Linked DNA regions of Homo sapiens: all the other regions are linked to region 4. Evidence: fine-mapped expression QTL. A gene starts in region 4. Each other region holds a variant in brackets. All regions are shown on one strand. Distances are between the middles of the regions.

Region 1 (5,101 bases), 36 kb after region 4:
GGCTGAAGATACACATTTGGGGTCATAGGTATATAGATGTATTTAAAACCATGAGGCAAGATGAAGTCATCTAGTCAGGGAGTGTAGACAGAGTTGAGTAGGTGGCCGTCGAACTGACCTTTGGGTCACTCCGACATTTTTAGGTTTCACAGAGGAGGAAGAGGAGTCTGAGGAGTGGTCAGTCAAATAGGAGGGAAACCAGAAAAGCGAGGTGGCAGGAGCCGAGGAAGGGTGCAGTGCAGGAAGAAGATCGACAGTTGCATCAAATGCTGTTGAGAGATCAAATAAGACGAGGATAAAATAGTAACCATGGCACTTGGCAGCATGGAGTGTTAGTGGCTTTGAAAGTCCTATTTTAACTATTCACAGTAACAAAGACAGGGAATCAACCTAAATGCCCATCAGTAGTAGACTGGATTAAAAAAATTTGGTGCATATACACCACGGAATACTATGCAGTCACAAAAAAACTGAAATCATGTTCCTTGCAGGAACAGGGTTGGAGCTGGAGGACATTATCCTTAGCAAACTAACATAGGAAGAGAAAACCGAATACCACCTGTTCTCACTTATAAGTGGCAGCTAAATTATGAGAACACACGAACACAGAGAGGGGAACAGACACTGGGGGACTAACTGAGGGTGGAGGGAGGGAGGAGGGAGAGGAACGGGAAAAATAACTGAGTACTAGGCTTAATACTTGGGTGATGAAATAATCTGTACAACAAACCCTGTGACACAAGTTTACCTATATAACAAACCTGCACATGTACCCCTGAACTTAAAATTTAAAAAAAAAAAAAGTGCTGTTTTAGTGGAGTGGGTGAGTTATGGAAACCCAAATGGAGGAGGTTGAGTTGAAAATGGAGGCCTGGCACAGTGGCTCATGCCTGTAATCCCAGTGCTTTGGGAGGCCAAGATGGGAAGCCAGGAGCTCAAGACCAGCTTGGGCAACATAGTGAGACCCACTCTCTACAAAAAATTCAAAAGTTGGGCTGGGTACAGTGTCTCACACCTGTAATCCCAGCACTTTGGGAGGCTGAGGCGGGTGGATCACCTGAGGTCAGGAGTTCCAGACCAGCCTGGCCAACATGGTGAATCCCTGTCTCTACTAAAAATACAAACATTAGCCGGTGTAGTGGTGTGCGCCCGTAATCCCAGCTGCTAGAGAGACTGAGGCACAAGAACCGTTTGAACCTGGGAGGCAGAGGTTGCAGTAAGATGAGATCCTGGGGTGGGGGGAGTGGGGAGGGATAGCATTAGGAGATATACCTAATGTTTAATGACGAGTTAATGGGTGCAGCACACCAACATGGTACATGTATACATATGTAACAAACCTGCACGTTGTGCACATGTAACCTAAAACTTAAAGTATGATAAAAAAATAAAATAAAATATTACTTTCAAAAATAAATAAATAAATAAATAAATAAATAAATAAAAGACGAGATCCTGCTATTGCACTCCAGCCTGGGTGACAGAGTGAGACTCCATCTCAAAAAAAAAAAAAATCAAAAACTAGCTGGGCATGGTGGCACATGCCTATAGTCCCAGCTACTTGGGAGGCTAAGGCAGGAGAACTGCTTGAGCCCAGGAGTTAGAGGTTATCGTAAGCTGTGATCATGCCATTGCACTCCAGCCTGAGCAACAGAGTGAGACCCTGTCCTCCAAAAAGAAAAAGAAAATAGGATGCAAAGCAAAAAGAACACTATACGCAACCACAGAAGTTCTGCTGGGAAGGTTGGAACAGAAAAAGGGGGCAGGAGCCAAGGGAGACATAGAGTCCAAGGAGAGTTCTTAAGGATGGAAAATGCTGAGAGGAAGAAAGAAGAATAAACTGATGCTACAGAAGAAGGAGGAGGTAATTACAGGAGCAAAGTCCATGAGAAGGCTGCAGGCAATAGAGTCCAGAACAAAAGTGCGGAGCT[C/T]GCTGGCCTGAGAGAGCAGGAGGGACAGTTCATTCATTGAAAAATGGACGAGGAAAGGGTGGGTGCGGGTGCAGTAAGTGGGTAGATTTCATGGTGGCATTTGAAGCCTGTCATTGCCGCTATTTTCTCAGTGAAGTAGGAGGCAAGATCTTCAGCTGAAAGTTCAGTTCAGACCACTAGGGTTGATGGGAGAGCAGAAGGTATAAAATACCATGCAGGAGGGAGGAGCAACATGTAATGGAAGCACCTTTCCATGTGGGGCAGTTTGAGTCTCTGTCTGAAAACTGAGGTCATAAATTTAACATGAGACAGACTGTGCTCTCTCTTTTGTTTTGTTTTTGAGGCGGAGTCTCGCTCTGTTGCCCAGGCTGGGTGGAGTGCAGTGGCACAATCTTGGCTCACTGCAGCCTCTGCCTCCCGGGTGCAAGCAATTCTCGTGCCTCAACCTCCTGAGTAGCTGGGATTATACGCCCAAGCCATCACACCCAGCTAATTTTTTGTATTTTTGGTAGAGATGGGTTTTCACCATGTTGGCCAGGATGGTCTCCAACACCTGACCTCAAGTGATCCACCCTCCTCGGCCTCCCAAAGAGCTGGGATTACAGATGTGAGCCACTGCCCCGGGCCTGTGCTGTCTTTTAAAATTGTTATAATCGTACTGCAAGTGCAGCTTTTAAAAACACTTACTATTGCTGGGCGGGGTAGATCATGCCTGTAATCCCAACACTTTCGGAGGCCGAGGCGGGTGGATCACCTGAGGTCAGGAGTTCAAGACCAGCCTGGCCAATATGGTGAAAACCTGTCTCTACTAAAAATACAAAAAATTAGCTGGACGTGGTGACTTGGGTGTATAATCCCAGCTACTCGGGAGGGTGAGGCAGGAGAATCACTTGAACCTGGGAGGCAGAGGTTGCAGTGAGCAGACATCGTGCCACTGCACTCCAGCCTGGGCAACAAGAGGGAAATTCTGCCTCAAAAAAAAAAAACCCAAAAAACAAAAAAAAAACCCAACACTTATTATTTGAAGTGATTGCTATGTGACAGGCATCAAATTGGGCATTTTACATCAATCCTCATTTAAAAAAAACTCTATATAGGGCCAGGCGTGGTGGCTCACGCCTGTAATCCCAGCACTTTGGGAGGCCGAGGCGGGCGGATCACAAGGTCAGGAGATTGAGACCATCCTGGCTAACACGGTGAAACCCCGTCTCTACTAAAAATACATAAAATTAGCCAGGCATGGTGGTGGGTGCCTGTAGCCCCAGCTACTCGGGAGGCTGAGGCAGGATAATGGCGTGAACCTGGAAGGTGGAGCTTGCAGTGAGCGGAGATTGCGCCACTGCACTCCAGCCTGGGCGACAGACGGAGACCCCGTCTCAAAAAAACAAAACAAAACAACTCTATACAGGTTGATATCTCCATCGTACAGATAAGGAAACAGATGTAAAGGAAGGATAAGTAACCTGCCTGGGATCACATGGGTAGTAAGTGGTGAGATCAGAATTATAATCTAACTTGTGTGGCCATTTGAGTGATGCAGGTGTGCAAGGTGTAGCTTAAATGAGGGAATTGGCAGAGAAGAGGAAATAAGGGTAAAAAGAGAGTGAAGGAGGGGAGGGGGTAATGAAGGCAGGAGAAAGTTTGTTCCCAAAATTATATAAGGTGTTGTGCACTTTACTAAAAACTCACACCCAGGGTTGACACAAAGAGAAGCATGATCAGAACGTAGTGCACTGTCCATGAAAAATAAGAAATAGGCCCGTGCAGTGGCTCATGCCTATAATCCCAGCACTTTGGGAGTCCGAGGCGGGTGGATCACCTGAGGTCAGGAGTTCGAGACCAGCCTGACCAACATGATGAAACCCTGTCTCTACTAAAAATACAAAAAATTAGCTGGGCGTGGTGGCAGGCGCCTATAATCCCAGCTGCCCGGGAGGCTGAAGCAGGAGAATCGCTTGAACCCAGGAGGCGGAGGTTGCAGTGAGCCGAGATTGTCAAGGGCAAAACTCTGTCTCAAAAAAAAAAAAAAAAAAAAGAAAGAAAGAAAGAAAGAAAAGAAATAAGACATTATTCCTGGGCCAGAGGCCTAAAGGCAATTCCTCCCATTATCCTCCCATTCAGTAATGGTTCAAGAGGACTTTAGCCTTTCCATCAATGGCCTCCTTGGCATAACTGCCCTCCCCAAATAAAAACAACAATAATAATGTGTTTAAATAGGATGTTCCAACCCTGTGGAACATGTAAGCAAAATCATCTTCAGGTCAAAACAAAAGTATGATTTCTGTGCAAACCCAGCTTCTCGCCAAGCCTGGTGCCTCCCCACTTCCAACTGATTGTGCCCCTGAGCCTCTGCTGGAGAGAAATTCTGGAGTCACCACTGCAGCCGTGGCCTGCCATGATAGGCATCATGTGACGTAATATGCCAGGTCCATCACAGCCTTCCTGTGTAAATACAGCCCCTGAAGATGTTTTCCAGCTACTTCTGTCTATTTTAATTCATAATATTCCACCAGATAAATAATTCTTGCTTTTATTTATTTATTTTTGAGATGCAGTCTTGCTCTGTCACCCAGGCTGGAGTGCAATGGCACCATCTTGGCTCACTGCAAACTCCGCCTCCCAGGTTCAATCAGTTCTCCTGCCTCAGCTTCCTGAGTAGCTGGGACTACAGGTGTGTGCCACCACACCCAGTGAATTTTTGTATTTTTAGTAGAGACGGGGTTTCATCATGTTGGCCAGGCTGGTCTCAAACTCCTGACCTCTGGTGATCCACCTGCCTCGGCCTCCCAAAGTGCTGGGATTACAGGTGTGAGCCACCGTGCCTGGCCAAATAATTCTCACTTTTTTTTTTTTTTGAGACAGAGTCTCGCTCTGTCGCCAGGCTGGAGTGCAGTGGCGTGATCTCCACTCACTGCAACCTCTGCCTCCCGGGTTCAAGCGATTCTCCTGCCTCAGCCTCCTGAGTAGCTGGGACTACAGGCACGCGCCACCGCACCCAGCTAATTTTTGTATTTTTAGTAGAGACGCAGTTTCACCATGTTGGCCAGGGTGGTCTCGATCTCTTGACTTCGTGATCTGCCCATGTCAGCCTCCCAAAGTGCTGGGATTACAGGTGTGAGCCACTGTGCCTGGCTAATTCTTACTTTTATAAATGATGCCATGGTAAACAT
Region 2 (5,101 bases), 35 kb before region 4:
TTTGAAGGGCCACAGGCAGGGTTGCATGTGGATATGGGGAGAGGACAGGGTGAGGGTAAGAGAAGAGTGAAGCCGCGTCTGTGGCCTGTGTGTGTGCCAAGGTGCGGGATGGAGGGCGAGGGAGTGAGGCAGGGGAGGGAAGGCTTCTCTTCCGTCCTTGGGCCACTGGGCTCTGGAAAGCCCTGCAGTGTGGCACCAGCCCTGCTGGACTTCAGAGCGGTGGCCACAAATCCCTGGAAGCCCCGTGCCTATTCGAGGTTCCCTTTATTGAGCTCCAGCTGGATACCAGGCTCAATGCTAGATGGCAGGAATACCAGGAGGAGACGCCAGGCGTATGGAGATGAGCAGGACTGGTGTCTGCACCCCAAGGCTGGCGGTGCGTGGACCCCGTGGCTCCCGGTCCCAGTCCCTCCCGGTGTGCTGGCCCCGTGCTTCTCCTGGCTCTTTCCTTAGCGGGGCACTGGCCAGTTACCTCACCAACAGCATGCCCACCCTGGAGCGCTTCCCCATCAGCTTCAAGACCTACTTCTCAGGGAACTACTTCCGCCACATCGTGCTGGGGGTGAACTTCGCGGGCCGCTACGGTGCGCTGGGCATGAGTCGGCGCGAGGACCTGATGTACAAGCCGCCCGCCTTCCGCACGCTCAGCGAGCTCGTGCTGGACTTCGAGGCCGCCTACGGCCGCTGCTGGCACGTGCTCAAGAAGGTGAAGCTGGGCCAGAGCGTGTCACACGACCCGCACAGCGTGGAGCAGATCGAGTGGAAGCACTCGGTGCTGGACGTGGAGCGCCTGGGCCGCGATGACTTCCGCAAGGAGCTGGAGCGCCACGCCCGCGACATGCGGCTCAAGGTCTGCCCGCCTTCCACGCCCTCGCCCCCTCCCTCGCCCCCTCCCCCGCCCCAGCAGAGGCGATGTGAGGATTGAGAGGACTGGGGAGCTTCTCAGGGGACTGGGGTGCTGGGACCTTGCTTAGTGGTCGATATTGTTCAGGTGGTCCCCTGGGGTGGGCAGACCAGGACGGCTGCGGAGGGAGGAGGTGGGTGGGCTGGGTTTGGATGGTGGTAGGTGTTGGGCACATGGCAAGGTCACTGGTGGAGAATCACGGCCTGTCTGGAGGGTGTGATCGGGTGCTGTGATGGGCAGCCTCCCCACTCCTCCTGTAACATATCCTGACTCTGCCCCCCAACCCTAGCAACCATTAAAGGACTAGGAGGTGGTCAGAAGAAAGGGAAGTCAGACCATGTGGAAGACAATGAGGGCAGTGTTCCTTCTTCCTCTTCCCACCCACACTTGAGCAGGAGGTGATAGGGAGTTGGGCTGGGGGCTGTTGTACCAAAAACAGCTGGGCTGAGCTGTTGAGCCCTAGAGCCTTTCAGCAGGCAGAATTCTGACATCTGCCTGGGTTCTCCTGGGGCTGCCAGGGCCCCCTGCTGGGTATCTCCATAGCTCAGTCACTGCTGCACTGTGACTGCCCCTCCAGGCAGCCTGGAGCCTCCGCCTCAACCACCGACCTCTGCACTCCCAAGTGCACTGCTTCTCTTGACAGCCCTGGGAGGCCAGCGGGCGGTAGGTGGTAGCTCCATTTTCAGGGTTGGAAGCCCAGAGTCTTGCTCACTGGCAGTGAGAGGCAGATCAGACTGGAGCTCAGCCTCCTGATGGGGTGATGGGGAACCCAGGTGTGTTGCAGGTGCCTGCAGGTGTCCTGGCAGGGGTTTGTAAGAGCTACGGCTGCCCTAGCCATTGCCAGCCCTAGGCCAAGATCTCCTGGGGTGACAGTGCCTTCCCCTAGGGCAGAGGCAGGCTGCAGCCAACCCTGCGTTAGAGAGGGGCTGCTCTCTTCTGCCCCTGAGCTGCCGCTCCCCACCTAGCTCTGGGTCCCCCAGCACCCTGGCTCTTGCTCCTCAGTTTGCTATTGTGTCTTTAAGGCATCAGATTGGATCTAGGGTGAGAGCCAACAGTTCCCTAGTGTTTAGAGCTGTGATGGATTCCCAGCCTATTCAGTGCTAAACACTCACCTGTGTTACTTGCCCCTCTCCAGCACTCCTGCGTTTTGAAAACTCAAGTCAAGCTGACGGTGCCATATAAAGGATGACTCTTTTGTTTTTCTCATTTTTTTCTTAAGCAGAGCTAAAGCTACCAGTCTGACTTCTCAATGGCTGGAGATACCCAGCATCACCCTTGGGGTGAGTGGGATCTCAGCCCCAAGTTCAGTGTGGGCTGCTCCCACAACTGGCACGTTTACCTGGCCTTTGTTGGGGACTTTTTGCAATATTATGGTATCTCAGTGACTTCCCCCACTTCCACTCTGCCTTCAGGAGCCCACAGGGATTGGACAGCCCCATGGAGGAACTCCTGCTCTGGCAGCTTTAGTGCCTGGGAAATAGGTTGGGAAAGATCCAGACAGGGAAGAGCCATGCTTGAGGTTCCCCGGGCCTTCCCCAGGGCAGCCTCCAGGGACCTGTGGCTCCTGGAAGGAGAGGTTGGGCTCCAGGGCAGTCCTGGAGTGATGCTGTTGCTTCCTCCTCTGCACCTAGATTGGCAAAGGGACGGGCCCTCCCTCTCCCACCAAGGACCGGAAGAAGGATGTTTCTTCCCCGCAGCGGGCCCAGTCCAGCCCCCACCGCAGGAACAGCCGCAGTGAAAGACGGTGAGAGAGGGACCACGCCTGGGTGGGTCCAAAGAGGGTTTTTTTCCTTTCCTCTCATCGTGTGGGTCCCTTTTTTTTTTTATCTCTCTCCCACCCTTCTCTCTTTTTCGCTCCCACCCAAGGGAGGTGACTTGGGATGGTGGGTTTAGAGGTTTGTGTATTGACATTTCCCACAGCAAGGCAGTTCTACTTCCCCAGAGAAACCAAACTCTGCTAGCCCACTAGTCTGAGCATGGGTTATGTGAGAGAAAAGGTAGAAAGGATGGGGCCCCTGCAAGGCAGT[G/A]AGCCACCCAGGAATGTCATGGGGGAGGGCGTGAATATTAGATGGCTTTGAACATAACTTTGCCCCCCACCCAAGAGTCTGGTTTTTGTCTGTATCCAGGTAGCAAGAACAAGCCATTGAAATACCAGCTCTCCTCCTCTGATTTCAGCTCCTACACATCACTCTGACTCTTGCTTTAAATATAATTGTCATTCAGGAGCCACCTCTCTGGTATGAATTCAGGGGTGGGGTACTAAGCAGGCCTCTGGCACCAAAATATCCATCATCTGTGACTTTTATCTAAGAGGCTTTTGTAGATGACAGATTCCCCTCAGACAGATTTATACTTTAAGCTGTTACCTACCAACTGCAGCCAGATTAGCCAGCCTCCAGCAGCGAGAAAGCCTGTGAGAGCGAGCCGGGGCCACATTCAGACAGCACAGGCGGGCCAGGGTGTCCAAAAACACACTTCCATACGCACTGTGCTGTGCGTTGGAGGGCCACTTGGAGAATGTGGCGGGGAAGCCACCAGGCAGCCGCTGCTGGCTCCCCAACTCCATCTCCCTAACAGACCACTCACTCTCCTCCCGCTCTGCTCTCTTCCTCCCACAGGCCCTCGGGTGACAAGAAGACTTCCGAGCCCAAAGCCATGCCAGACCTTAACGGGTACCAGATCCGGGTCTGAGGCGGATGCCAGCACCCCAGGCCCCACCCACTCTTGGGGGCCAGGATCCACCTGCTGGAACCAGCCTTATGCATGGGGAAGGCGGGGCTGGTGACAAGGCAGGGCAAGAGGCTGCAGGAAGAGTGTGTTCCAGCTCAGCCCCCCAAGCTGCTCTCGCTCCCACTGAGCCAAGCCCCCTAACTTTGGGCCTAGAGGCCGTTAGTATTTTATTTGGAGTTTTTAACTCTACAACTGAAGTTTAAGGTATTTGGGGAAAACTTAGTCCAAATGGATCTGCTGATGGTGGGAAGGCCAGTGCTTAACAAATCCATGTGTCATGGGGCCAGGTGAGGGAAACTGCTGGTTCTGCTGGTGCCTCTGCCCCTGGCTTCTCTCTGGGAGTTGGGTGCATCTTATCAGTGGGAAATCTCCCAGCCTTACCAGGCCTGTGATGGGGGGTGGGGGTGGGGTGGAGATGTTTCTCCAGTTCTGCCTGCCCTGGCAGAATCTTGACCCAGGGAAAGGGAAGCAGGGTAGGAGTCCTTCTGAGAAAGGTCTGTGTAGCCCATTAACCAGGAGCTTGGCACAGGCCACATCTGCCCCAAGAGCATGAGCTCGTGGCTCAGGAGAGCCTTCAGGCCCTTGAGGCCCCCATGGGCAGTGCTGTGTGGGCAGAGGAGGGGTGATATGAGAGCGAGCCCAGGGAAGGACCTCTGGGCAAAAAGTTCCCAGGCCCTAACTGCGTCTACTTGCTCAGTCCCAGCTCTGCCTGTTGCTCTAGCCCACAGGCTCCCTGCGGAGGGTCTGGGCTTGGCGGAGGACCCAGAATGGCACTGAGGCCAGCATGGCTGTGGGAGTTGAGCAAACCCTGGGTGCCAGTCCAGGAGCTGTGGCTGGACATGGGGTGATGGGGCGGGATGCTTGGGCCTGGGTCTCTCCGCCAGCAGTGCCAGGAGCCCTTGCTGGGGAAATCAAGACCAGACTAGGATGCTTCTGCCCCAGGCCTGCCTTCCATTCTTTAACAGCCCATCTTGGCTTGGGGTTGCAATGATGGCTGGGCCAGTCACTTGTGGCAGGGCATCAGGGCCCTGGCAGGGAAGAACCTAGGCACCTGGGGTTGTCCCCAGCCTGCCCGTCAGCATGAGATACCCAGTGGGAAAGTGAGAGGATGCGGAGAGGTTGGCAGAGCCAGGGGTAGGTTCTGGAGGCTCAAGCAACAAGGAGGTGCAGGTAAAGGGTGCAGTGCAGCCACTGAGGGACAGCTGGGAACTGGGGGATGCAAGTGAGAAAGGGATGTGGGGGAGAGTTCAGGATCAGGCTGCTTGAGGAGTAATGGGTTACCTACAGCAGAGACGAGATGGCTGTTTGTCAGGAGGCGGTAGAAAGGTAGAAAGGATTCAGATTGTGGAAGGGTAAACGGATGAGATGACCATTAAGGTTTTGTTTTACTGAGAGGCTGTAAGTCTGCCAGGGACAGCTGTCAGTAAGGCTGCAGAAGGGCTGGGGGGCTACACAAGGAAGAGCAGA
Region 3 (5,101 bases), 24 kb before region 4:
GGAACCTGTTCAGGTAAGACAGAAAACCAGATCTGGTTTCAGGGCTCCCAGTGGGCATGTGGGCTTGGCTGGTCTTACTACATAGGGAGGTTGGAAGACAAAAGCACCAACAGAGGTAGGCCTAGGAAGGAAGAGACATTTTTCCAGCGACAGATGGCCCACTGCTCAGCCCTGGCTCCAGAATGCAAAAGAGATCAGAAATAGATGCTCAGCAAGAGGCATGTGCCACCCGCATCATGTCTCATGCAGCTGCCATAGCTTTAATCAGGAAAACACACATCTTATCCCACTTTGCACAGACCCTCCTGAAGTGCAGAAGATACTAGGAGGAGGCATGGGGGGAGCAGATGGAGGAAGAATGAAAAGCAGTCCAAAGAATCATTCTCTCACTTGGGAAGGACAGAAGAAAGCTGTACCCCAGCAGTGTCAAGGCAGGAGGCTTCACTCAAGCCCTGTTCCTCCCAGGCCTCACAGCAGTGGGAATTTACCTCAGCTAATAGAGGGAGATCTTACAACACATTTCTCAATCTAGATTCATGTCTTGAGACCCCACCCCAAGATCAAAAGCTCCTTAGTCTCTTCCTCTGCCCACCTCATTCTTCAGGCCCTCTCTCAAGGACCTAATCCCTTCAGGATCCTAATAAAATGAACAACATTGGGGGGAAAAAAGGTAAACCTTTATTTGGAAAAAGAGTTTAAATAACAATTTAAAACCCCATTTCACTTTCAAAACAGAAACAAGAAAGCAAGGAAAAGATAATCTATCAAGCATCTGCCCTCTGCTGTGGTTAGCCATTTTAAAGCTGCATTTCCCAGCAGAAGAGAACAGTGATGGGCCCTAGTCCTAGGAACCCACAGGGCACTGTCTTGAGACCCTTTTAGGCAGTGTCCAGGGAACAGACAGACAGAATGAATGGTGGGGTGTAGACAGACCTGGGGCTCAGACAGGCACATGCCCAGTACCCAGGAAACAAAGTTTGAAAATATATACACATAGAAAAATAAATTCCCTAGAACCTAGGCATGGAAAGCTTCTAACCATGAATGCAGCAGCACAATGCAAACTGGGTCTTTGGCTTTCAAAAAAAGGAAAGAACCTTAACCCCTGGCTTACTGTCCCGAACTCAAGTCTCTTGACCACTGTCTTCAGTCCCACTTTGGAGGTCGAGTGAGGCAAGAGCAAGTCAAATCTACCAGGGCCAGCAGCCACTCTGACTTAGGGAGATGTGTGGAGGGGCTGGCCCAGGATCTCCCAAGGCCACACCCCAGCAATGAAAGATTAAGGCATGCAGGTGACACAGTGTGGACTAAGGAGTCCCCTGAATAAGCCAGGGTACCCTTCTGTTAGGGGAGGGAAAGCAGACGCAACAAGCAGCTGAGGCCTTGCTGGACAGAGCCAATCCGCAAGTACTGCCACTTCAAATTCTTGGACCAGTTTTGTCCAAGGCCACCTTTCTGCTGAGGCAGTTTGGCCTGAGCTAAATACCAGGGTTTTCTAGAAAGGAAATGGAAGGGAAGCGGGAGATGGGAGATAGCAGAAAGTAAAAAGTGGTGGAAGGAGAGGAACAGAAAATTGCTTCTTAGGAGTGGAGAGGAAAGAGAATCAGCTTAGGTCTTCAGTCCCAGCTGAGGCAGCTGAAGAGTCTACCTGCTCCTTCCCCTACTGGAACTCCTACCCTTGCCCCAGTTCTGCAGGCTGCAGAGTCCAGTGAAACAAGAGTTTCCTGAAGACTCTTTCTCCTCCTAATCCTTAAATAGTTTTAAACCTCATACCACTACCCTAGCCCAATGAACCCCACATAAGGGTTCAAACTTCCGCCTCCCTCAGGGAAGCCTGGGGAAAGGGATGGCCCTTGTGAAATTACACCAGGTCTGTGGGGAGCTCTGGGTTGGAGGCACAGGGCCAGCTGGGACAGGTAGCGCATCCCCCAAAATTTGCCACTCCAGGATGTGGGCCCCATTTGTTCCCAGAGCCCAGACGCCGGGCCTGCCCTGGTTGGCAGGATGAATGCCTAATGAAACACAGAGGCTAAAAGGAGAGATGGGGCCATGCCCTGCTGCTGCCTGCTCATACATAGGTACTTGGGTAGACTCTGAACCTGCCCCAGGCCTACAGCCCCAACATGAAAAGTGGACTGGTCAGAGGCAGGCATGGCTGTGCAGAAGTCTCACCCCAAGAGGACACATACATGATATGCATATCTCACATATGCATGCCTGGCAAGAGGGCTGGGCCCAGAAGTCCTGAAGGCAGGGAAAAGGTCAGGTCAGAAGGTACATCAAGAAACGGCCTGAAAGCAAATAACCAATGAAATCAAGAACTCCCATAACCCTGGTAATTAAAAATCAAGGGGGAGCGCTGGATACATGGAAGGAAGGGGGAGCCCCCCTTCTGCCTCTCCCAGGGCCACTGAGTGTGTGGCACAGGATTAGGAAGAGGCTGGGGTGGGGCAAGGACCACAGGCAGAGAACGCAGCCAGGCCTGGAGAAAGTCTAACCGTGGGAAAAAGGGAACGAGGAGGGGGAAGGGAGGGGATGTAAGTTTCTTGGATCTAAGTTTCTAGATGCATGGGATTTTTCCACAGTCTCTGATCCAGTGAGCTCTTCTGGAAGAGAAGCTCTCTTCCCCTGGGAGCCCTGTCATGGGGCGGTGACTTCCATCCCGAAGCTGGCTAGCAGGCAGAGGTGGTCTGAAGAGCAGAAGGGGTTGGGTAAGCCATTGGCAGCCCAGAGTATCTCTTCAGAGAGAAGGGAGAGACGACCCAGGAGCTTGAGAGTTCCATCTCGATACAGCCTGTGATCTGGGGCACAAAGCAGAAGCCAATGGGTAAAAGCAGCCGCAGCCACACTGCATGGGCAGGCAGTGGCAGAGTCCTTTGGGAACGCCTTCTGCAGGCTGCATCC[C/T]CTTGGCTGCCCACTGCCCCTCACCTCCTCTTGCAGCATCTGGCTGAGGAGGCCCCATTTTCTCAGAGATACTCCATAATATCATCAACGAATAAAGACAGGTGAGTTCCGGGGAACTGGGGCAAGCTGGAGAGCCCACCATTATAAGATCTTTTGATTTTCCAAGAGAAGCTAGAGATCCAGCTTTTCTATATAAAATCTGATTTTTTTTTTTTTTTTTTTAGATGGAGTCTTACTTCGTTGTCCAGGCTGGAGTGCAGTGGCGCAATCTCAGCTCACTGCAACCTCTGACCCCCGGGTTCAAGCGATTCTCCTGCCTCAGCCTCCTGAGTAGCTGGGATTATAGGTACCCGCCACCATGCCTGGCTAATTTTTTTTTTTTTTTTTTTTAAGACGGAGTTTTACGCTTGTTGCCCAGGCTGGAGTGCAGTGGCACGATCTCGGCTCACTGTAACCTCTGCCTCCCGAGTTCAAGCGATTCTCCTGCCTCAGCCTCCCAAGCAGCTGGGATTACAGACACCGTCACCACACCCGGCTAATTTTTTGTATTTTTAGTAGAGACGGGGTTTCATCATGTGGCCAGGCTGGTCTCACTCCTAACCTCAAGTGATCTACCCACCTCGGCCTCCCAGAGTGCTGGGATTACCGGTGTGAACCAGTAATACACGTGCCTGGCCATAACAGTAATACACATGCCTGGCCAAAAAGAAACATTCTTTACACAATACAGGCATGGGGCTGGGAGATTGCTATACTGTGCCCACTGGTATGGGGAGAGGAGACAGAAAATAAGGTCTCTTACCTAACCAAGTCCCTCATTCAGTGGCTGTCATTAAACAAACTCAACCAATTCCTAGATCTCTATTTTTACCTCTAAAATGGGGATTGGGAGTGACTGTCCTACCCTCCTCTCTTTAATGCTGCAAGGGTAAAAAGAGACAAGGCAGGCAAGTGGCCTATGGGGAGAATGATAAGGATGACCAGTGCAAGGGAGGTATGAAATCTGCTCCTTTGCTGGTTAAATCCCAGCAGCTGAAGACATGCTACCAAATGCCTGACCTACCATTAGCTGTTCCCAGGGACCTGGGGGTGGAGGAACCCAGGATCCATCAGGCTTACCAGTTCTGTTCCCATTCTCACAGGACTCAGCTGAGAAGAAGATGTAATCTACTGTCATTCCAAGACCCAATGGCATTGTAGTGACCTCTGGGCGGCCACGCTGGGGCAGGAAGTGGGTATATACTGACGTCAGGTGGAGGCAGTGCTGGATGGTACCTACAGTCCTACAGGGATGAAGGGGGAAACATTAGTTAACAAAAATTACTAAATTTTCCCTAGATCACTTTTTCTATGGGTTTTATGAAGATTTTTTAAAAGGATGATCTCAGATGACTCAATCTCAGCCAATTCCTCCCCATGCTAAGAAGGGGCTGGCAGTCTTAGCTAAAATTAGCCTAGAAACACACATTTGTACTGAGACTCCCTAACACTCCTAATCCCCCACTATCTGCTTGTTACCTGGTAAAGTATCCCCAATGTACCCCTGTCTGGGGCCCAGGCCTCTTCTGTGAGGCTTTACCCTCTGAGGAAAGAGTACATAGCCTTTTCACCTGCAGTAACATGGGTGGGTCACCTCTGGCTTCTGCATACCTACATAACCCTCTATAAGTTTAGCAGATATTAGGGGAAAAAGAGCTTATCAAAAAGTGCTCCCCCAAGTCAACCTCAGGACAACCAATGGGAATCTCTCTCTTACACCTAGGCAAGGGCTGGATTGAAAACAGAAGAGAACTGGAGAAGGTTACCTGGAGAAGGCAGGCTCAAGCTCCGATGCATCTTCCTCAAGGACAGACTCAGCCCAACCCGCAGGTCGCTCTGCAGAGGACCAGAGAGAAAAACATTTTCTCATCCACAGACAGTGAAGCAGGATCAGAACCTTTCACCCTAAAATCCCTCTCAGATCCTTGACTGGATTGCTTCAGAAGGATCCAGAAGGAGAAAGGGAGAAACAGTGAGGAGGAGAAGATGACCATAAACCAAAGTCAAGAACCTCAGAAAGCAGATGTAGGGCATCTAACACAGACATTGTCTTCTGTGGCTCCTCACCTTTGTTTTTCTTTAATTTGATTAAAAAAAAATAAGTCATATAGTCACATGGTACAAAATCAAAATGTAGCAAAAAGTATCAGTGAAGTTT
Region 4 (5,101 bases):
GACAGTAAGAGACAGCTGACATCTCTCTGATACTGCAGCCACCAATGACAGCCAACAGGCAAGAAAGAAAGTGGGAAAAACTCTAAAATTAGAGCCCCCAAACTCTGAGCACAGTATTTTGGTGAGAGCAAACAACTCCTACACTCACACACTCAACCATTTATTTACAGCACAGGACGAGTAACATGCACGATGCTGGCCCTCAATCACTAGACTCATTTTATTGGCAATTTTTTTTTAAAGGGAAGAAACCTTAAAAGTGGCTCAAATATTGAAAGACGGTTCAAATATCTTGTTTGGGGTCTATGTATATTTATGTCCTTCTAAACAATGGTTTTAACCACGGTGATTTTGCCCTCGGAAGACATTTAGCAACGTTCAGAGACACTGTTGTTGTCACAACTGCAGCATTGCTACTGGCATCTAGTGGTTAGAGGACAGAGACGCTGCTGAACTTCCAACAATTCACAGGACAGACCCACACCAAATGATCCGGTCCAAAACGTCAACAGTGCTGAGATTGAGAAACCCTGCTCTAAACCTATGTATGGGCTGGGTCGTTGAGCTTTAGCCTCAAGGACTTCCTGATTATCTGCCCCTTGAAATATCCTCTGTGTATACCAGATGGCAGAGGTTCTTTGGTTCATATGCACGAAGTTACTAGCTTTCAATTTTGGTAGATGTCTTTTGGTGGTGGTGGTGGTGGATTTTCAGCAGCAGAATGCTTTTGTTTTTTAAAAATCTTATCTGGAAACCAAATATGCCAAGTAAATATAAGTGGGACTACTGTAATGTGTAGGTGGGGGGGCGGGGGGGGCCCTCCTCTGAGATCCCTAGAACTCTACTGGTCTGGAAACCTCTGGACTAGTATACTGTATCACTAAGGCATTAGAAGAGCTCCAGGAAAAACAGCAACATAGTTAAAAGAATATGTTTAGTTCTCTGGAAACAATTACTTCTGTGGAGTTTCCCACATTCCTCAGAAGTATGGACACACAAGACATTCCTGAATTCACTGAGTGCCTACTGTATACCAAGCAATGTGTTAACACCAGAGATACAGCGAACAAAATGGACGTGGCCCTGCGCTCCTGAAGTTTGCATTCTAATGGCAGATACACAGTAAAATTTAAAATATTTCTATATGAAATATATATTATCAATGACACACACATTGCGTACCAATTGTGTAAAGTTCCACAAAGGAAAACCACAGAATATACAATTGGAGCCCTCATTCCTAAGTACTTCTTGGTCCTGTCCCATAAATTAAAGGCAAAAAGTCTGCGAGTTCCATGGGATCTCAGAAACTGATGGTCGCATAAAACCCTCCGTAATTTCAAAGCCCAGAAATAGAGAATGCAGACAAATTATGAAACAATAACGAAATAAACACCCCCTCTTTGAGGTATCGACTGGGCATTGCCCCCACCCCAGCACATCTCCCTCTAAACCGCCGGGAGTGGGGGCAGGAATGCTCCAAAGCTGAGATCTAAATGTGTCTCTGATTGAACGTCCGTTTTTCAACCAAAGACACCGGTGAGCGAGAGCTGCCAGGTGGCAGTGAAAGGCGAGTGTGAAGTTAACCTGGGGAAGATCGGTGCGTCCAGTACTTCGGCCATAAACCTCCCAGAGCCGACCCGCCTCGCCCGCTGAGAATTTGGGCACTCGCCTAGGTCCGAGCTACTACCCCTTCCCGACCCGCCGGGGTGCTGACTTGGCCGACCCCACAATTTCTCTGCACCCCCAGGGCCAGGAAAGGGCCCTGCCCGTCCACAGCTCCTCTCCACCTTAACCGCGGCCGGACGCCATCTGACAACAGGCGGGAGGAGGGGCCGCCCACGAGGGACGTCGGCCAGGTCCAGGCCTCGTGGGGTCAGGAGGGGCCCGCGGGGCAGGGGCTCAGGACCGCCTCCCTACACCTCGGCACTGCCCGGGGCACGGTAGTCGTGAGGCCCGGCCAACCGCACGCCGCCCCAGGCCCGCGGAGCCCCGCAGAGGCGAGCCCTGGCCGGGCTCCTGTCTGTCGGTACGCCTGGCCGGTACCTGAGAGGGCGCGGAAGAGGCGCGTGGCCGGCAGCAGCAGGTAACACAAGCACGACGCGATCATGGCCGGCCGCCCGCGCCCGCCTCCGCTCCTCACTGCAGCCAGCAGGTCCTCCCTCAGCTCGGCCCCGCCCCCGGCCCGGTCCGGCCCACGTGGTGCCGCCGCCGCGCTTCAACAACAACTTTATTGGGAGCGCAGGTCTACGGGTGCGCACGCAGGAAGTGGGAGGAGCCGGTTCCCATGGCAACTAGCCACCCCTAGCACCCGGCTGCCACCCAGGCGTCCCGAATTAAAATTGAGCGCCTCACTGGAGGCCCCATAGTGTTATTCAAAGGCCACAGTTTATTCCCACTTCTGCAGCTGACTAGGTGTCCACCTTGTTACCACACTATAGCCTCTCCGCCCCTCAGTTTCCTCACCTGTAAAATGAAGAGCTGGACTTTCTCTAAGGCTCCACTGAACCTTGACTTCTAGCCCTTCTCGACCCAGAAAGGAAGCGAGTTATTCCCCCATTTCCCCCGTTTTCCTGCCTCTACTTCCCTGTCTCAGATTCTAGGTCACAAATTGAGTCCTACCTTGCTTCAGGAAGTAAGACTTTGTCTCCTTCCCTACTTTCTAAACGGGCCTTCTTTTCCCTAATCTAGAAAAACAGGGTTTCCCATTGGTAAGGAAGTCAAGAAAGAAAGGAGAGAGGACAAAGAGAGGAGAGAGAGAAGGGAGAGAGGAGAGAGACAGAAGAGAGAAACTTCCACAAGGCCAGGGACCAGTTCTGGCTGGTTGTTTGCTCACTTTGAGGTATCTCTAATACAATCCAAGCACCTATTGTAACCAAGTACCCAGCTTGGAAGTTATATTCTTGTTATATACTTCTATTTCTTTATTTTTGTTCAGTTAACCACTAGGCACCCCCCGACACCCCAGCACCCCCCATACACACTGTTAGCATATCTAATTGTATGTTCGCTTAAAAGTTCCAGAGACTAAATCTTGAAACAATATAGGCATCTGTGGAAATCTCCACCAGGAGATTGATTCAAGGCTACAGTTAATTTATAACTCAGCCCAGCCCGAGATGATGCCAGCCCATTCACCAGATGGGCAGTAACTCAAGACAAGTCATCAGAACTCGTCATGAAGACCTGCACTGCCTCACCCCTTGCATACCCTCCATGCCAAAACTTCTTAAAGCCTCGCATTTTGCTTGGAAATGTGAAGCAGCTCCATTAAAGCAAAAGCCTGGATCGTTTTTCCCCACTGCTAGCTTTGGTTTATAATAAAGTCAGTCTCCTTCTACCATACCACGACCTTGCTCGTTGGTTTTGCAAGCGGCCGAATCTGCATTCGCTAGCACTACTAGCCACCACATAAGCCTTTACTGACTGGTTGAACAAAGCATATGTCACTAAATGAAGGCCAGTTCTGCCATCACTTCTGTGCCACCTGCGACCTCTTTGAGTCTCTCTTCCCCAGTCCCCCTCCCCCAATCTTCTACCCCAAACAGGCTCTGAAGGAGGGACTGGACAATGCACCCAGTTTCAGTACCCAGTGTCTGAGTTGCACGATTTCCAGTTTGTGGCTGGAGCCTTGGTTGTTCAGGGAAGCCTTCTGGGGAGTCACCAGATCCTGGACCAGCTGGGTACATCATAACACTGAAAGGCTAATAGGAGGAAGAAGGAGAGAGTTAGTATTGTGGCCTTCCCACTACTTACCCTTAGTTCTAGAGGTGGCAATGTCTGCCTGCCTTCAGGCAACAGCACTTATCCCTTTGAGATGAAACAGAGGCCCAGCAATCTGAAGGTTGGGAAGCTGCTTAGAAATTAGTGCACAAATGGTGGATCTACCAAAGGCGCTCCCGAGGTCAGGCCCCCTCCTTTGATGTAGCTTAAGTAAAACCCTCCTTGTACCCTCCTTCCATTTTGTACCATGAGTTATCCAGAAGTCCAAGTTCCAAATCAGATCCTAATCAAGGGTAACGGTTCCCTTATCTCCACTGGGAAAATGCTTTCAAAATACAAATTTCTAGGCCCTACTCCCAGAGTTCTGATTTAGCAGCCCTGGAATGAGGCCCTTAAACACTTACTTATTCCAATGCACGGTTTGGGAACCTCTGCTAAAGGATCCAGTCTCAACTGGGCTGTTCAGTGCACAGTGTGGGCACAATGTGTCAGCCCAACTGATCTATGTTCTTTCAGAGGCTTTTTCTGCGGCCAGTTAAGTGAGGCTTCCCTCTTTTTGTTTCCTGGTCCATAATCAGCCGTGTTGGAAGGTGTAGGGTGATATAAGGATCACAAGCTTTGGAGTTAGACCAACTGAGTTGAAATCCTGGCTCTGCCACTTTTTACCTGTGGAATCTCTCAGGTTGCCTAAGCTCTTGGGGCCTCAGTTTCCTCATTGTGCCTGACCCAGTATAAACTCTCAATGTTTACTATTACATTTTTGGATTTGGGCAGAAAAGCAGCTCCAGACGTGGCTGATGTAGGATCTTCTTCCACAATTTCTGGCTAAAATAGAGCTCCTGCCCTCCAAATTGTAATGAGTATTACTAAGCAAGCCAATAACTACAGGTTCCAAGGAGACTTGGCCGAAGGAGTGGAGCCTTAGGCTTCCCCAGTCAGAGGAAAATTACAAGTGCAATCTGCACAGTCTCCAGCCTCATTGTTTCAGAAATATCCCAAGAAGAGAGACGATTCCCTCAATTCATTCCAGCTGTGCTAACAATGAAGACAAGTATGAGCACCTGCATCCATCACTACCATGGTTTCCAGGGTGCAGAACCTATGTAATGGAGCAAGTGGGAGGTTTTGCAATACTTTGAGAGACTTAAGATGCTCTCTTAAAGGGACATTTCCAGTCTATAAGAAATTTAAGCCCTTGAGGGCTAAAATTTTACTTATGACAACAAATATATGTGGAATTCCAACAGAGTGGCTGCATTTATTAACTTATTGGTTGAACATGTGCAAATATTGGGGCGGCATAGTGCTTTCTTCAGGATTACAGAGGCTACGGACCAACGCCTGGGACAGTGCTGCCCAAAAGAAATATGTTGTGAAC
Region 5 (5,101 bases), 49 kb before region 4:
CACGTTGAAAACGTCCTCCGCAGCTTCGCACCGGCTTCGCGGCGCCCTGACAGCTGGGTGAGGAGGGAGCGAATGCCCACCGGCGTCCTTGGGGTAACTTGGGACAGAGGCACCGCCGCGGGGGGCGGAGGACTGGGCGCGAAGGCGCTGGCCCTTTAAGGGGGGGACGGAGCGCATGCGCGGCGCGGGCCGTAGTCGAGCCTGGTGGGCGGCTGGCTGGCAGGGGACGTGGTCGGCGGCAGCGGGGCCCAGGGGCGGCGGGGCTGCAGCAGCGGCGGCCCCAGCTTCGCCGAGCAGCGATCGGCTGGTGGGCTTCTCGTTGGCGGGCTCCGCGTTGGCGGGCTGCTCCCCAGGCACCAGCGCAGCGCGCGCTCGCCCGGCTTCGTCACTCGCCTCCAGCTACATCCGCCGGCCGAGGCTGCGCGAGCCTCCGGGCTTGCGGTCCCCGCCCCGCGGTCCTTCCTCCACCCTCAGCCAGGGCAGCTGCAGCCCGAGCGAACAGCCACGGAGCATCCTCCGCCCGCCCGGGCCGCGCCACCGCCCATGCTGCAGCCAGTCCCAGGCAGCGACCCCGCGGCCGCAGCCCGCCGCTCAGTGACCTCAGCCTGGCCCCTGCGCGCCGCCCGAGCCGGTCCCGCTGAGCCGCGGGCCCCGTGCCCTGCGATGGCTCGGCTGGTGCAGCGCGGCGCCAGGTGCCAGCCGTCCTCCCGCTGAGACGCGCCCGAGTGGGGACCCGCTGGGCCTCGGGGCTCGCAGCCTTCGCCTCCCCGCCGCGCCCGCTCCCTTTCTGGGGACTCCGCCGCTGTTTCTGGGGACGAGGGGACAGGGGACCCAGACAAAGCCCACTTTGTGCAGGGAGTTGGCCGCAGGCGGGGAATGTGCGCGTCGGCGCGCGCCCCCTCCCCGCTCCCGGCCAGCTGCGAGTCTTGGCTCCCGGACTTGTCTCGTCGCGTCGGAGAAATCGCCCCCCAGCGCCGCTCTCCCGCCCGGGGGTCTTGGTTCCGAGCTCGCGCGGCCGGGAGTCGCCTCGGTCTTCCTTGGGGCGCGCGCAGATGTGAGCGTGCGAGAGTTGTGTAGGGGATTTTGTTCCCTCCGAAACTGAGACCCAGGGCGCCCAGTGGGCACCCGTGCCTTGACTCTGTCCTTTCTGCAGCCGCTGGTCCGAGCTGTCTGGCCTCAGTTTCCCTCCGACTTTTCTCCGCTCTGCCAGCCCTCACTGCTGCCCGTCATTGTTCTCGCAGTTAGATGGGGGTGCTTTGTGACGGCTGCCAAGTTGGGGTGTGTTCTCTTTATTCCGTTTTTCAAACAGAACAAGGCCTCCAAGGCTGACCCCAGACAACCCACCCCCTCGGACCCTAATTCACCTTATTGCACTGATTTTTTTTATCAAGTCGTATTTTATTGTACAGGAGCCACGCCCTGATTTCTTAAAGGCGCCTTGCACTCTGGCCATGTGTTATCTCTGCAGCCGGTGTGTGGGAGGCCTCTTGTGAGCCAGTTGTTTTCCCGCCTCCACCACCCCCCTCGAAGATTTAGGGATGCCAGGGGGGAAGAAGGTGGCTGGGGGTGGCAGCAGCGGTGCCACTCCAACGTCCGCTGCGGCCACCGCCCCCTCTGGGGTCAGGCGTTTGGAGACCAGCGAAGGAACCTCAGCCCAGAGAGATGAGGAGCCAGAAGAGGAAGGGGAAGAGGACCTGCGAGACGGAGGCGTCCCCTTCTTTGTCAACCGGGGTGGGCTACCTGTGGATGAGGCCACCTGGGAAAGGATGTGGAAACACGTGGCCAAGATCCACCCCGATGGAGAGAAGGTGGCGCAACGGATCCGTGGGGCCACAGACCTGCCCAAGGTGAGACACACGGGTCAGGGGGGTGATAGCACAGTCTAGGTTTTAGTGACCTTGGGGCCAAGAGTGAAGCCACACTCTCCTCCCACGGGGCAGGGGACCACTGGCTCGGTAAGATCTTTAAAATGCAGTGATATCATACCTGTCTAGGAGAACTTTCTCTCACTGCCATTCTAGGAGGGAGGCTCACATACATTGTCTCCAGGAGGCCCTCCCCGCTGTCTTTTAAAATGTCCACGTTTTACAGGAGGGGACAGCAGCAGATGGAACTAACAAACACAGTAGGATGGCTTGACGTCTCATTTGCTTGATGACACTTGCCAAGCCAGAGAACTGTGAGCAGACAAATGTAATGAATGACTAAGGAGATGCAGGGCTTCATATGTTGAGAAAATATTTTCGTGCATTATGTCATTGAATTCTCCCAACAGCCTTGTGACGTAAGTACAGTTTGGATTCCCATTTTACAGATGAGAAAGCTGAAAACTCAAGTAGGAACTCAAGATCCCACAGCCAGTAAGTGGCAGAACTGAGATTCAATTTCAGGTCTTCAGGAGAAGGGCGGGGG[G/A]TGGTGGTGGAGGGAAGTGTCCAGGTCCTCTTCTCTGTTGGACAGTAGATTCAAGCACATTAGAAGAGGTCTTATGGAGAAGCATAAAATGAAATAATTTTTCTGTGTTGGCTGTAACTCCTCCTCCATGACAGCTATACTTCAGTTGTGTCACCAACGAAAACAGAGGCTGTATCTCATTCATCTTTGTCTTCCCAAGGCCTCCTGTGTGCCTGGCACAGAACAGGCACTAGTGTGTGTGTTTGCTGAATGAAAGGGTATTTGAGAGTTTCTGTGCTGTACGCTGCTATATGGAAATACATGCCAGATATTAAAAAAAAAAAAAACATGATCAAGACTAGGAGGCACTTTGCCAAATGCAGAGGCCTGAAATCTCCAAAAAAGAGCCCTTTGGACTGAGTTCAGAGCCCAGTGCTTAGCCCTGCCTGCCCAGGTTGGAAGGAAGGGGGCTAGGAAGAATGGAAGTTAGTGTGAATTAGACATGAGGACAAGTGGCCCGTTTTGTTTTTACCAAGTTATTGGTACAGCCATCAGAAAGTGTCTTCTGGGAAAAAGAGAATCAAAGGTTGAAGGTTTAAATACTGCCTAATGTTTCCAGGGGAAACAAAATGTAGATTGATTTGGAATGGCCGCATAAATGTGCTCTGCACTGACTTAATATTTATTTAGCTAATCCCCTAGAGTTGGATGTTGTTTCCAGTTTTATTCCTAAAATGAATACTATGGTGAACATTCTAAAATATAAATTTTGGGGTTCATCTCTGATTATTTCCTTGGGAAAAATTCTGAAAGCGAAAGTATTGCGTCAAAGGATATTGACATTGGTAGGGGTCACCTGCTTATCTATATGGCCTCTTCCACCTATTTGAGATGCAGTTTTCTTATCAATAAGATGAGGTTGATTGTGGGGAAGAAATGAGAGACTGTGTGTTAAAGTATTTAACAAACTGTAAAGCCCCAAACCAGTACCTGGTTATTGGATATCAGTTACCTTTTTTTTTTTTTTTTGAGATGGAGTCTCACTCTTTCCACCAGGCTGGAGTGCAGTGGCATGATCTTGGCTCACTGCAGCCTCCACCTCCCTGGTTCAAGTGATTCTCCTGCCTCAGCCTCCTGAGTATCTGGGATTGTAGGCACCTACCACCACACCTGGCTAATTTTTGTATTTTTGGTAGAGATGGGGTTTCATTTTCAACATTTTGGCCAGGCTGGTCTCAAACTCCAGACCTCAGGTAATCCACCCACCTCAGCCTCCCAAAGTGCTGGGATTACAGGCGTGAACCACCACGCCCGGCCAGACATCCATCACCTTTACTTATGTGCTTTATCAAGCGGCAAGACTGGGTTTTGCTCAGATCATTTGTCCCGATGAGGCCAGAGTCACACCCTGCTCCCACGTGAACAAGTCGGGCAGCTCTCCAGCCATCTTGCTTATGTCTAAATCAGGCCATAAAAGAGTGTGAATGGTTCCCTGCAGAACTGCCACCACTCCTGGGAACTAAAAAAGAAATAGTGAGCTCACTAGTAACTGGTCTGTAATGTCATTCTGTCATCTTCAGTCCTCATGTACAGGAAAGACACGGATGAAGGAAGTCTAGGGGTGGGGGCTGTGTTGTGACAGACCCCTAGACTTCCATCGCTAGGGTAGAAGGAATTTTGTGAGAGGTTTGGAAAAATTTGAACCTCCCCCTCTTCAAACCACAGATCTCAGATAAATCGCATGAGTCTGCATGAGGTCCCTCCTCTACCTGGGCTCTGAGTAGAAAGGTACCCTTAGAGTCTGGGAGTGCAGTGGAGTCCAGGAGGCCTTGGAGAGAAGCAGCGTGGGTTGGGTGCCTGGGTGCCAGGGTGCCAGTGGCAGGGTGGGCTGACCCCGCCCTTACCATCCCTAGGGGCCATGCCACTGGAGCTGGCACAGGGTCATTCCCTACAGCGGCCACACAGTGTGGGGCTCAAGAAGTGTTTTGTTGGGAAAATTGGGAGATTTCTCACATAAAGATCCAGAGTTTTGGCATCTTTTCAGAAAATAAGAAGACTTGGGAACACATGGGAATCTGCAGTCCCACGTGGCAGCTGTCAGCTGGGGCTGGGGAGTGAGTCCTACTCCCCCATCTTGCCACTGTCTCCACCACTCACCTACCAGGCCTGCCTGCCCCGTGTATGTTACTTGCCCGGCCCCTGCATGTGGTTGAGTCTGGGACCCCTGCAGGCTGGTGTCATAAAAGGAGAGCACTCTGGAGTCAAAGCTACCATGTTCAAATCCTTGATCTCCCATAACTACTTATATGAGGAAGACAGGCAACTTTCTTGTGCCTCAGTTTTCCGCAGCTGTGAAATGGAGCTAATAGCAATGCCCATCAAGAGGATGTTAGAGGAATTAATGATGCAAAGCATGTGATGCTTCATTAAGTGCCTCTAATAGATACCCAGTAATGGAGCAGGGAGTGAGTGTTCATCGACACCCCACTAGCGCTTTGGAGAAGCAGCCTTTACAGGGATGATGCCAGTATGTTATAGGGCAACAATTTCTAGAAAGATCCCAAATCCAGCAACAGCTTAGGCTCCTTGATAAGAGTCTGTCCTTGATGTTTCAGGCTTCCACCCCCTTTAAAAGCTTAGTGGCCACTGACCCCAGACCCAGCTGCTGAAGGTCTTTTATGGTCTCTTATGGCTCAGGCCACAGAGCTCC

Direction of the effects. Alleles are on the strand shown, and positions count from the first base shown. SD is a standard deviation of normalised expression in the study named. Not every link is listed here.
For the expression in transverse colon of the gene that starts at base 2,165 in region 4, A is the low allele of the variant in region 2 and G is the other (moderate effect, 0.42 SD a copy in GTEx).

Evidence for each region.
Region 1: its variant is fine-mapped to the expression of ANGEL1 in whole blood (INTERVAL, PIP above 0.99).
Region 2: its variant is fine-mapped to the expression of ANGEL1 in transverse colon (GTEx, PIP 0.94).
Region 3: its variant is fine-mapped to the expression of ANGEL1 in whole blood (TOPMed, PIP above 0.99).
Region 5: its variant is fine-mapped to the expression of ANGEL1 in whole blood (TOPMed, PIP above 0.99).

Annotation. Positions count from the first base shown.
Region 1 is chr14:76,846,899-76,851,999 of GRCh38, forward strand. The region is part of intron 7 of LRRC74A (leucine rich repeat containing 74A); the gene reads left to right. Among named protein-coding and RNA genes, the nearest start is that of LRRC74A, 23 kb to the left of the region's middle. The variant C/T (reference allele first, on the strand shown) is at 1,932.
Region 2 is chr14:76,775,424-76,780,524 of GRCh38, forward strand. VASH1 (vasohibin 1) reads left to right here. Exons shown (of 7, transcript NM_014909.5): 5 at 469-850; 6 at 2,536-2,648; 7 at 3,523-5,101. The coding sequence ends at 3,595. Among named protein-coding and RNA genes, the nearest start is that of VASH1-AS1, 8.8 kb to the right of the region's middle. RefSeq lists an enhancer at 116-1,074. The variant G/A (reference allele first, on the strand shown) is at 2,932.
Region 3 is chr14:76,786,588-76,791,688 of GRCh38, forward strand. ANGEL1 (angel homolog 1) reads right to left here. Exons shown (of 10, transcript NM_015305.4): 8 at 4,710-4,779; 9 at 4,024-4,187; 10 at 1-2,801. The coding sequence ends at 2,641. VASH1-AS1 (VASH1 antisense RNA 1) reads right to left here and starts at 137. Exons shown (of 2, transcript NR_104184.1): 1 at 1-137. The variant C/T (reference allele first, on the strand shown) is at 2,905.
Region 4 is chr14:76,810,718-76,815,818 of GRCh38, forward strand. ANGEL1 (angel homolog 1) reads right to left here and starts at 2,165. Exons shown (of 10, transcript NM_015305.4): 1 at 2,047-2,165. The coding sequence starts at 2,110. RefSeq lists enhancers at 1,206-1,780, 1,781-2,354 and a silencer at 1,803-2,232.
Region 5 is chr14:76,761,284-76,766,384 of GRCh38, forward strand. It overlaps VASH1 (vasohibin 1), which reads left to right and starts at 185. Exons shown (of 7, transcript NM_014909.5): 1 at 185-1,847. The coding sequence starts at 1,539. RefSeq lists silencers at 152-341, 442-711. The variant G/A (reference allele first, on the strand shown) is at 2,413.